Linked DNA regions of Homo sapiens: region 2 is reported to be linked to region 1. The links are microRNA targets in miRTarBase. Many come from high-throughput screens and were not tested one by one. Region 1 holds a microRNA gene; the other region holds the end of a gene's coding sequence.
The links. The annotated mature microRNA hsa-miR-6068 reads CCUGCGAGUCUCCGGCGGUGG and lies in region 1 at 3,215-3,235, opposite strand. An mRNA with a match to its seed (bases 2 to 7 or 8) in the 3' UTR can be bound and repressed. Matches are read on the target gene's strand: a 7mer-m8 pairs with bases 2 to 8, a 7mer-A1 pairs with bases 2 to 7 and ends in A, and an 8mer does both.

Region 2: miRTarBase lists BTG1 as a target of hsa-miR-6068. Seed matches in the 3' UTR shown: 7mer-m8 at 1,345-1,351.

The regions. Positions count from the first base shown.
Region 1 is chr1:63,323,750-63,329,130 of GRCh38, forward strand. It overlaps MIR6068 (microRNA 6068), which reads right to left and starts at 3,235; the gene lies at 3,176-3,235. It overlaps FOXD3 (forkhead box D3), which reads left to right. Exons shown (of 1, transcript NM_012183.3): 1 at 1-1,379. The coding sequence ends at 746. It overlaps FOXD3-AS1 (FOXD3 antisense RNA 1), which reads right to left and starts at 692. Exons shown (of 3, transcript NR_121637.1): 1 at 606-692. RefSeq lists an enhancer at 2,865-3,733.
Region 2 is chr12:92,139,693-92,145,073 of GRCh38, reverse strand. It overlaps BTG1 (BTG anti-proliferation factor 1), which reads left to right. Exons shown (of 2, transcript NM_001731.3): 2 at 627-4,796. The coding sequence ends at 994. LINC01619 (long intergenic non-protein coding RNA 1619) reads left to right here and starts at 2,243. Exons shown (of 5, transcript NR_132341.1): 1 at 2,243-2,467. RefSeq lists enhancers at 1-247, 207-256, 517-566, 587-826, 2,854-3,143.

The DNA of each region.
Region 1 (5,381 bases):
TGCGGCGCCGGAAACGCTTCAAGCGCCACCAGCAGGAGCACCTGCGCGAGCAGACGGCGCTCATGATGCAGAGCTTCGGCGCTTACAGCCTGGCGGCGGCGGCCGGCGCCGCGGGACCCTACGGCCGCCCCTACGGCCTGCACCCTGCGGCGGCGGCCGGTGCCTATTCGCACCCGGCAGCGGCGGCGGCCGCGGCTGCTGCGGCGGCGCTCCAGTACCCGTACGCGCTGCCGCCGGTGGCACCGGTGCTGCCTCCCGCTGTGCCGCTGCTGCCCTCGGGCGAGCTGGGCCGCAAAGCGGCCGCCTTCGGCTCACAGCTCGGCCCGGGCCTGCAGCTGCAGCTCAATAGCCTGGGCGCCGCCGCGGCCGCTGCGGGCACAGCGGGCGCCGCGGGCACCACCGCGTCGCTCATCAAGTCCGAGCCAAGCGCGCGGCCGTCGTTCAGCATCGAGAACATCATAGGTGGGGGCCCCGCGGCTCCTGGGGGCTCGGCGGTGGGCGCTGGGGTCGCCGGCGGCACTGGGGGTTCAGGGGGCGGCAGCACGGCGCAGTCGTTTCTGCGGCCACCCGGGACCGTGCAGTCGGCAGCGCTCATGGCCACCCACCAACCGCTGTCGCTGAGCCGGACGACTGCCACCATCGCGCCCATTCTTAGCGTGCCACTCTCCGGACAGTTTCTGCAGCCCGCAGCCTCGGCCGCCGCCGCTGCTGCGGCCGCCGCTCAAGCCAAATGGCCGGCGCAATAGGGACGCGCCAATGGCCGGGACCCAGGGTCCGGCGGCGGCCTCGAGCAACAAATGCACCTCCAGGCTGCGCGCCCTGTCCCAAGCCCGGTCCCGGTCCCGCTGCCCAATCCTGGACTCTGCCTCTCCCCAATTTCCTTTCCCCTGAGCCCCCAACGCCTACCTTCCGCGGCCTCCATCCCCTCGCGCACACCTAAGCTGGTCGAGCAAACTCACCGCGCGCCCGCCGGGGATAGCTTTCCATACAGGTAAAACCGAAAACCGAATTTTCCAAAAATGCACCCCGACGGCGCCTGCTCTTAGTACCGTGGGGATGGGAGGGAAATTCTTTGTATATATTTGTAAAAAAATTATTGACTTTCCTTTTGGGGTTTTTATTTTTTTAAGAAAAAACAAATTCCGTAGATTTAGAGCTCTGAACTTTCATTTTTTTTGAAGGTTCACTCTCCGAAGTTTTATCTGAGAAAAGAATGTATAGAGACGTTGGGAGATTTTAAATATAAAAAATTTTCAAAAAGGCAAAAAGTGTCATTCTATTATAAAAGTCTGTTTATATATGAATGAATATATATGGTATTCTAAATGTTATTCCATCGTGTTGTACACAACTTTGTAAATAAATTTTTAAAATGCCCAGCCTAGTGTTTTATTTAGTTGTCTGAAGTAAATGGCAAGATTTTTAAATGGTATTTATTTGCCTTTTCTCCTCCCCAGAAAATCAAGGAATTTCAAGTAATGGCCTTTTCAAACTTTTTAAATTCATAATTTGAGTGTAAGAAAATTTTAATTGGAGAAAGGAAATAGTATGCCTAATTTAAATTGTGTTACTATTTTTCTTTTAGTTTTCACATAAAATCAGGATGTGAGTGATATCATTCATATCAACCCATTAAATCTAAATGACCAGACATTTCTGTAGATAAAGTAAGCTGTCATTTAAAAAAAGAAACCGAAACAACAGCAGTCTTTAAATTTTTTTAAAAAATGACTAGACTTGTATCTTCCACAATGAAAACTTCCCAAATGAGAGAGTTCTTGGTCATTTCAATTATCCTTTGAAAAGTAAGTAAATTCCAAACATCCCTCTTTTTAACATTTAAATCTTAGATTTTTGAAATTATTTCTTTTCATTCCTTAAGTGGAAGTGGTAAATAGACCCAGCTGGTTTTAAAATTTATGTTAAGGCACTTTACATTTTGCAGTGGGATTTTATTTATGTTCATCTGATAGATAATACATAGTTTTGTTTTCATAATATTTTCAAATAAGATATCTCATTTATATGGCAATAATCAATCCACAACATAATTGGATTTCTGAAGGGGTCCTATAGATGCTTCCTCTCCCTCCAACCCAAAGCCTTTCTGAAGGCCAAGGAATGGTGGCCTTAATACCCTTTTAAAAACAGCTGAACATCACCTCTCTCCCCTTTTTTTTCTTTACCTTAGGCTAGGTTAGTGTGAAATGCGACATCATAGGGCAGGAATGGGGAAGGTCCTTGTAGATTATTTTTAATTTGCATTTCAGCTGTTAAAAACTTTTAAAAGAAAGTATGAAGGTAGAAATGAAACATCTTGATGTGGAAGGCTGGTTCTCACCACCATCAGCATATCCTCAAAAGGCATCAATTCTAATTATTTTGTAATTAATTTAGCTGTTACAATTACTTGTGCGAAATCGCTTTTAAAAACTGGAGCGAGTAGCAGTGCTGTCGGCTCGGCCCTGCGCGCGTCCTTTTGGTTAATCCCGGCCAGTCCCCGGTGTTGTCGTCCACTTTGCCTCCCTGGTGGTGGAGATGCCTCCCCGTCTCGGATCCCACCTCATTTCTCCGCTGTCGACGTGGGCTGGGGGTCGCTTTGAAAGACACTTCCTTGCAAATACCCAATCTGTTTTCCTGGTAAACGGTAAACATTATTGTGTCTTGAGTAAACATTCCTTCGGGATCAGGGTCCTAAAATAAAACAAGCTGCCGGGGGTGAGATAGTTTAACTTGATAAACAAGAACCTGATAACCACCGCCGAGAGAGGAGCAATGGTAACCTTCACCGAGAGGAGATTATGGACCACACGGTCTCCGGGCGGGTCCCTTCTAATCTCCTTTTACAAGGAAAACTAAACGGATCTAATTTTGTTTGTGTGTTGCAGCTATAAAAGTAACAAGTTGTTTCACAGTTGTGTCTGGCTAATCGGTTTTTACACAAACAGCAAATGGTACATGATTTGTGCAAACACATAGAGAGGTTATTTCTAAATTTAGCTGACAGCCCCTGGGAAAAGGGAAAGGCAGGGCTTCTTGAATTCACTTTTAGCCTCAAGAAGCTGCTGATCCAAGGCTTCTAAATGACATTGGATAACAGGGGCCTCATTCCATCCCTGATCCTTTGTTACTTATAAAATTACTCGCTCATATTTCCGCGCATAGCAGCAATACCGGCCGAGCCTGCGCCAGCAGCGTGACACTCAGCCACAAGCCACCGCCGGAGACTCGCAGGGCTTTTTCCAGCGCTACATTCATTAGGCGGCGGGGTGAACGGGAGAGACCTGCCGGCAACTTTCCTTCCAGCCAGTTCTTACCCTTGAACGACGGCCTAAAGATGGTCCCCTTCCTTTATGTCGTGGAAGGCAGGAAACTCTCGGACCCAGACCCTCAAGCTGCCAGCGGTTGTTTAAAGTCCTGGCAGATGTCAGGAAGATGGGCCCGGCCGTCGCACCCTCAAAAGCTCTTTTTCGTTTAAGCTTTTTAAACCTCGAAGATTTAGCACAAAATGGGAAATGCAAATATCATAGACAATGATCGCAAGCACTTAGTGGTGGGGCTGGGGGAAGCCTGAAACCCTTGTTTGATGTTATGGAACGCAGGCACCTGCGACAAACGGCACTGGAAACAGCTCTCTCGTTGAGATTTAAAGTCAACACTACTGATATCCACTTTTTATTCCACTTAAGAAAAAAAAACTAAAGGAAGGGGGGCAGATTTATTTGCAATAAAAGAAGAAAGCGGGTTGATTTTTATGGGGAAGATTTTAGCTTTCGGCTACACACGCATTTAGACGTTTCTACTTTCTCTAGCACTCATTCCTAGAAAAATCAATCCAGCCCTGAGGCCTGTGGCCCCTAGAGCGTTCTCAGGACCAAGGTCTGAGTTGGGACCGCCCGTATCTAGTTCCTCGGAGGGGTGGATCTGGATGTCCGGGGAAAGGCGAATGAAGAGTAGAGCAAAACATGTGCCGGCTGTTGAGGGCTGTCGATGCGATGGCAGATGTGGCCTGTAGGGGGCGACGAGCAGACGGAAAACTTCGCGGTTTGTCTGGAATGGTCCAGCCCCAGCCCCGGACGCCTCTCCTTCCCTCCCAGGCTCTGAGCCTCCTGACATCCTTGCTTATTCTCAGGCCCCGGAAGCCTAGGTCGAATCTCGAGAAGCTGATTTCCTCCTTTCCCCCGCCTGTGTCCTGGGAGGAACAGAGTCCCGAGGGGAGTTTGTCCTAAAGATTGGGAGGCAATAAAGTTTAGTGATGAGGAAACATTGACTTGGAAGCAATTAAGAGTTATATTTGAGGTTATTTATTTCACATGGTTTATAGGGTGAGTCTTGGTAGTGAGAACATGAAAGGCTGACATGAGTGTGTGAGAGGTGGGTATTTTTAACGTGAGTCCCTTGAGAAACTGTCCTGAGGGGTATGTGATCTGAAAGAAAGTGGGTTCCAGAGCCTTGTGTCCCCGGACTCCACCTGTGTCCCCGGTGGTACAAGCTGCAGAATAAAGTAGTGAAGGGAGGAGGTTGGAAGGGCATTCTGAAAGTGCCAGGCTGAACCTTGTGGGGAGCCGTCTGTTTCAAGGGAGGAGGCGACAGGAAGAAGCGGGATGAGAAAGGCCTTGCAGAAGGCGTTCCAACAGGGATTAGGCATTTCCTAACTGTGACTTTGGACAAGCTGCTTGGTTTCTTTCAATGACTGCATTTCCTCGACCCTACAGTGAGAATGAGTCTGCCTGTCACCTGGGCTTACAGAATTAGGTGAGTTGGTGTCAGTGAAAAATGTCTTATAAACTGTAAAGTGCTGGGGGCGTGTACAGTGTGTTTTTTAATGGCTTCTGCACGAAGAAACAACTCTGTTCTAAGCACTGGTACACGGCCAAATACATTGGCTCGGTTCTGAACCATTTGATTTTAGGTATGAAAGGTGGATTTTTCTAAGAGGGGTTGCAGAACCCATCCCAGGAAACTCCCACCCCAGAAGAGGCTTTTAAAAGGTGGAGCTTCCTCCTGGTCTGTAGGCCTTTCACTATGCCTGCGGAGAAGCTCTCGGTGCCCACCCATCCTTCAGCCTGCACCCCCAGCTCCAGGGGCAGGGCATACGTCTCTCTTCTCTCTGGCAGAGCGGCCTACTCTGCTGTTTGCCCCTATGCTTCCACTATCCGAGGCAAGTGGGGAAATCTGAGTCCACCGCTGACAGACTCCCATTAGTGCAAGATGCGGCCTGGGAGGCGAATTAAAGGTAACCAGATCCCAAACTCACTTAAAAGACCACCCTCCCCTTGCTGCCCTCCAACAGTTGGCAGAGTTACACCCAGAGCCAACTTCTCTCTTCGCCACTCCCCCTCCTTGCCCTCTGAGGAATGTACAAGCCATTCTTTGCTCCC
Region 2 (5,381 bases), not on the chromosome of region 1:
GCCGTGGGGCTGGGGTGGGTTCGACGTCCCCTTTCCTCAGCCCCCTCCAACCGTTGCGTGGTCGGCGGCCCAGCCCCGGGGTGGGAAGCTGCGCCGCTGCCCCGGAGCCAGCTCAGAACGGACGTGCCGTCTCCCCGCGCCTCCTGCCCCTGCCCATTAATCATCGGATTTGTCACCGGCACAATTAACAGCCCTGCCCAGAGCGTGGTTTAGGGTTGCTTGTTTTTCTTCCCTTCGGGGTTAACAGTCCGGTGGCGCTTCTCATCTCCAAAGCCATCAACTCCATTGTGTGCATCTGGGGTGGGGTGGAGAAAGTAAACAGTTTCTCGCCTGGCCATAGGTGCCAGTGGCTTCCCGACTGGCCGAGGCTGCGCGCCTGATTCCTGTTTTGGCGGCTCAACCGGTTGGTTCCTGGAGATTGTTTTGTCCGGTACTACTGTGTTATTTCTAAAACCCTGCCCGCTTTTTCCATCCCCGCACATGCACAACAACGGATGCAATCCTGGACATTTTAAAAAGTTGATAGTTTTCATTTTCGCTCCTCAAAGGAGCCTGGGGTAGGAGGAATCCGCAGTGGGAGCTAACGATCCTAAGCGTTGTTTCTCTGTTCTTCTTTTCTTCTATAGAACATTATAAACATCACTGGTTCCCAGAAAAGCCATGCAAGGGATCGGGTTACCGTTGTATTCGCATCAACCATAAAATGGATCCTCTGATTGGACAGGCAGCACAGCGGATTGGACTGAGCAGTCAGGAGCTGTTCAGGCTTCTCCCAAGTGAACTCACACTCTGGGTTGACCCCTATGAAGTGTCCTACAGAATTGGAGAGGATGGCTCCATCTGTGTGCTGTATGAAGCCTCACCAGCAGGAGGTAGCACTCAAAACAGCACCAACGTGCAAATGGTAGACAGCCGAATCAGCTGTAAGGAGGAACTTCTCTTGGGCAGAACGAGCCCTTCCAAAAACTACAATATGATGACTGTATCAGGTTAAGATATAGTCTGTGGATGGATCATCTGATGATGATGGATAAATTTGATTTTTGCTTTGGGTGGGCTCCTCTTGGGGATGGATTATGGAATTTAAACCATGTCACAGCTGTGAAGATCTGGCACAAGATAGAATGGTAAAAAAAAAAAAAATTTTAAGTGACAGTGCCATAGTTTGGACAGTACCTTTCAATGATTAATTTTAATAGCCTGTGAGTCCAAGTAAATGATCACTTTATTTGCTAGGGAGGGAAGTCCTAGGGTGGTTTCAGTTTCTCCCAGACATACCTAAATTTTTACATCAATCCTTTTAAAGAAAATCTGTATTTCAAAGAATCTTTCTCTGCAGTAAATCTCGCAGGGGAATTTGCACTATTACACTTGAAAGTTGTTATTGTTAACCTTTTCGGCAGCTTTTAATAGGAAAGTTAAACGTTTTAAACATGGTAGTACTGGAAATTTTACAAGACTTTTACCTAGCACTTAAATATGTATAAATGTACATAAAGACAAACTAGTAAGCATGACCTGGGGAAATGGTCAGACCTTGTATTGTGTTTTTGGCCTTGAAAGTAGCAAGTGACCAGAATCTGCCATGGCAACAGGCTTTAAAAAAGACCCTTAAAAAGACACTGTCTCAACTGTGGTGTTAGCACCAGCCAGCTCTCTGTACATTTGCTAGCTTGTAGTTTTCTAAGACTGAGTAAACTTCTTATTTTTAGAAAGTGGAGGTCTGGTTTGTAACTTTCCTTGTACTTAATTGGGTAAAAGTCTTTTCCACAAACCACCATCTATTTTGTGAACTTTGTTAGTCATCTTTTATTTGGTAAATTATGAACTGGTGTAAATTTGTACAGTTCATGTATATTGATTGTGGCAAAGTTGTACAGATTTCTATATTTTGGATGAGAAATTTTTCTTCTCTCTATAATAAATCGTTTCTTATCTTGGCATTTTAATCAATCTCTTGTCATGATTATAGAGGTTTAGCTAAAAGTATTTTTTCTTAGAAGACAGGTTCTATAAACTGAATCTCTGTTGCACACTGGTCATGCTGGAAAAACATTTGATGAGGAATGAAGATGCTCTGTATATACATGTTTAGGTTTTACAGGAAACACAGGAGTAGCATGTTTTAAAAATTTCTAAAGTCAAAACATGGACACATTCACAGGCTAATGATCTCATGAAATAAGGATAAGAGACCACGGTAGCATCTACCAAAAATGTGATACTCAAAGGATTACATTTCATTGCTTCCCTGTTGAAGTGAAGATATAAATGTTCCATTCTGACCCACCTTTGAAAAACAATTACTTTGCCCCATGGATTCTTTGTTCAATTAGAAATTTCCCCGGGGCAGGTGACCCATAGTCTTAAAGAACAGGCTAAACACCACAGAGAGATTGGTTGCTTTTTGCTTTTCATCACCTGCAAGATGTACATAAAAATCACATAAGCTGGAATTCAACAAAAGGTATGTTTATGAACTTTTATTCTCAAAAGTTGAAATGCTGACTTTCTCGATTCCTCATTTTCAGACTTTTATTTCAGATAAATACTAAAAACCTAAGTGAACCTTGATAATGCTGTAGTGTAGATTACTTCACTACCCCATATAATAGAAGGACTTGCTGTTTAGTTGTAGAGGATAACAGCGTTTTTCAGTGGAAATTGAAAGTGGAAAAATTGAATTTTGCTCTACACAGTTAACATATAGTGGCCTTTTTTTGGTATATATGTAAACATGTTGACACTGGAAATACGCAGTCTGAAATAAAATTAGTAATTACTTGAAATTAGTAATCTCAAATAACTTTTAAGAAGTTATTTCTACACCCAGGAATAAATTATTCTGATTTTGTAGACAACACAGGAATAGGCCACTGAATATGCAGGTATTTAGAGTACAAATGTCTGTGGATATTATTGGCACACCATTCTCGAGAGTTAGAATTCGTAGACCCGCAACACATGGACTACCCTTGCCAATTGTTATGGTTTTATTTTTAAACCTATTCTGTGAAAAAGCTCCTCGGTATTTCAAACTTGAATTACAATAAAAACACCAGGTAGGGTTGTTTTTAAATGGGTCTCACCCCAGTGCTGACTACTGTTGTTTACCAACTACATTTCATCTGGTAACTCCATTGAAACTAAGTACCTCAACCATTTTTTTTTTTTATCATAAAGCCTTTTTTCAAATGGAAAGTTGTTTTTGAAGATCTTGACATCAGACTTTTTCAATCTTTGAAAATGATGGAAACAGTTAATAAAAATGTTTATTTTAGAATTCAGGTGATGTCTGGCTTGTGAGGAGCTGTTTATAAGTTTGTCTTTGAAAAAGGCTTGCACACATCACTCTGAGACCAGCTGTTTCCTGTGACTTTAACCTTACCTTCCCCAGACAATTGAGCTGAACCTGTATCTGCGGTACAGTAGCTGTTTGTGATGTATTTCTTGTTCACTGTTTCTGGGGAATGTTTTGAAATATTTTATTATAAATCCTTTTAAGATAGGATGACTACTTTCAAAATTATTGTTGCCTTTGGCACCAGGAATTCATAGTTGTGATTGGCAGTAAGTTTGAGGAGTGTTACTTTCTAAGTTTTAACAGGTAGTTTTGAAATTATTTCCTTTTTTCCAAATTTAAGTAGTGCCTCCCTCTGTAATGTTGAAACAAGGCTTCAAGTGGATTGTATAGCAAGAGTTACCCTGGTTCATGCAGGATAATGCGGCTGTTATCTTTGTCATCTGGAATGGGAATCTCATGTCTTTATCCTTATGTGCAATATTTCTATAATAATAGACTGGAAAGGCCACCAGAAAGTGGCTTTCAGGTACATTGCACAAATAGTTTCCTTAAGTCATTATAACTCACACATTGCAAGTAATTAATTTTGTTTTGTATAGGTGTTGCAGTTTATGAAATTGGCCTTCAAGTTAAAAGGAAGGAAGCCGTATTCCCGATGGCTAGTGTTTAATGACTACAGGTTTCCAGGCTCCCTTTAATCTTGGGAGCAAATAAATCTACTATTGGACTTCTCCCTGCGTGACTTTTAACATTTCTGATACTCTCTCTTCTTCCTCTTTACAGAAGAGAGGTATGATAACTGAAGTTGTACTTTGCATATTGAAGTTTAAAGATACTTCCTCTCCCCTTTTCACCCCTATTTCAAATGATGTGATAAAATCCTCTTGATAGGCTATATGGAGAACATTTGTCAATAGTTTTATCTATGCATGGAAGTCTTCAAAAAGTATATCTTGGATTGTCTAAAACTGAATAGATTTCTTATTTATCTGAAGGTATACAGACTGCCAACATTTTAGACTTATCTCTCAGTCTCTGCCACTGAACTTTTATATATGGCTGCTATCAAAATATAACCGGTTTATTTTCATATTTGGAACTAATATAACAGTATCACAAAATCTTTTACAGTAAGATAGTTTGTAATACCAGCCGACCCAGCTGCTTAACTGAGTCCTTAAATCATTTAATATATGGGACTGTAAATAGAGAAATCTGTACATTATGAGATCTGATTTCTGGTTATGCCTATAGATCTTTATTTTCTTTATCCCTATAGATCATTTTCTTCTGATGTTAAGTGTTATATTTTTGAAATGCTCCTAAACAAGTAAGCCTTAGATTGTATTAATCCTGAGGATTGATACCATTTCCTCAACACTTTGTGGAGTATGATTGACACCAGTTTTTTTTTGACTGCAGGTTTAACTTGGCTTATCACTTTTCGTATTGCTCAGTATGTCCAAGATAGGAATAAAAAAATGTAGTTCAACTTCTGACTGTTATTTATGAGCCTTTTCATGGTATTTATCATTTTAGTATTGAAGATGCAGTGTTCTTTTGGGAATTACGTATGCTTAGAAGAGAGTACTGATGCTCAAAGGTGAAATGATTTGAATCTAGAGTTGGATAAAAAGGGAAAGGATGGGGAAAATGAAAACTGGGAAGCTAAACTGAGAAGGAATTGCAAGGTTTGGTGATAAAAATTCATTTGCTATGGTCATAGTTGTGTATCGAGAGGTTTGCACAGCACAGTCTCTTGGCAGAGTTTAGGAATCTCTACTCTGGGGATTCTGCAGTTCATGAATCGTCAGGGAGACTCTGCATTCAATTTGTTTCTGTGAACATGCAGGTGAAAGTGGTAGTACAGGTGGAACTTCATGGGAACTGGTTTTGGGGGAGGTGTGGATGGAAAGCACAAATGTCTCAGTATTTTCTAAAGGGAGACTATTTTTAAAGGTGTCTTGTTACAAACCACTTGATTATAGCCTCTTTTCTTGTACCTTTAAGTTGTGAAGGCCATTTGTGACTCATTCCTGGTGGTAGAAAAATGACCAAGTGTAGGCCAGACATATAA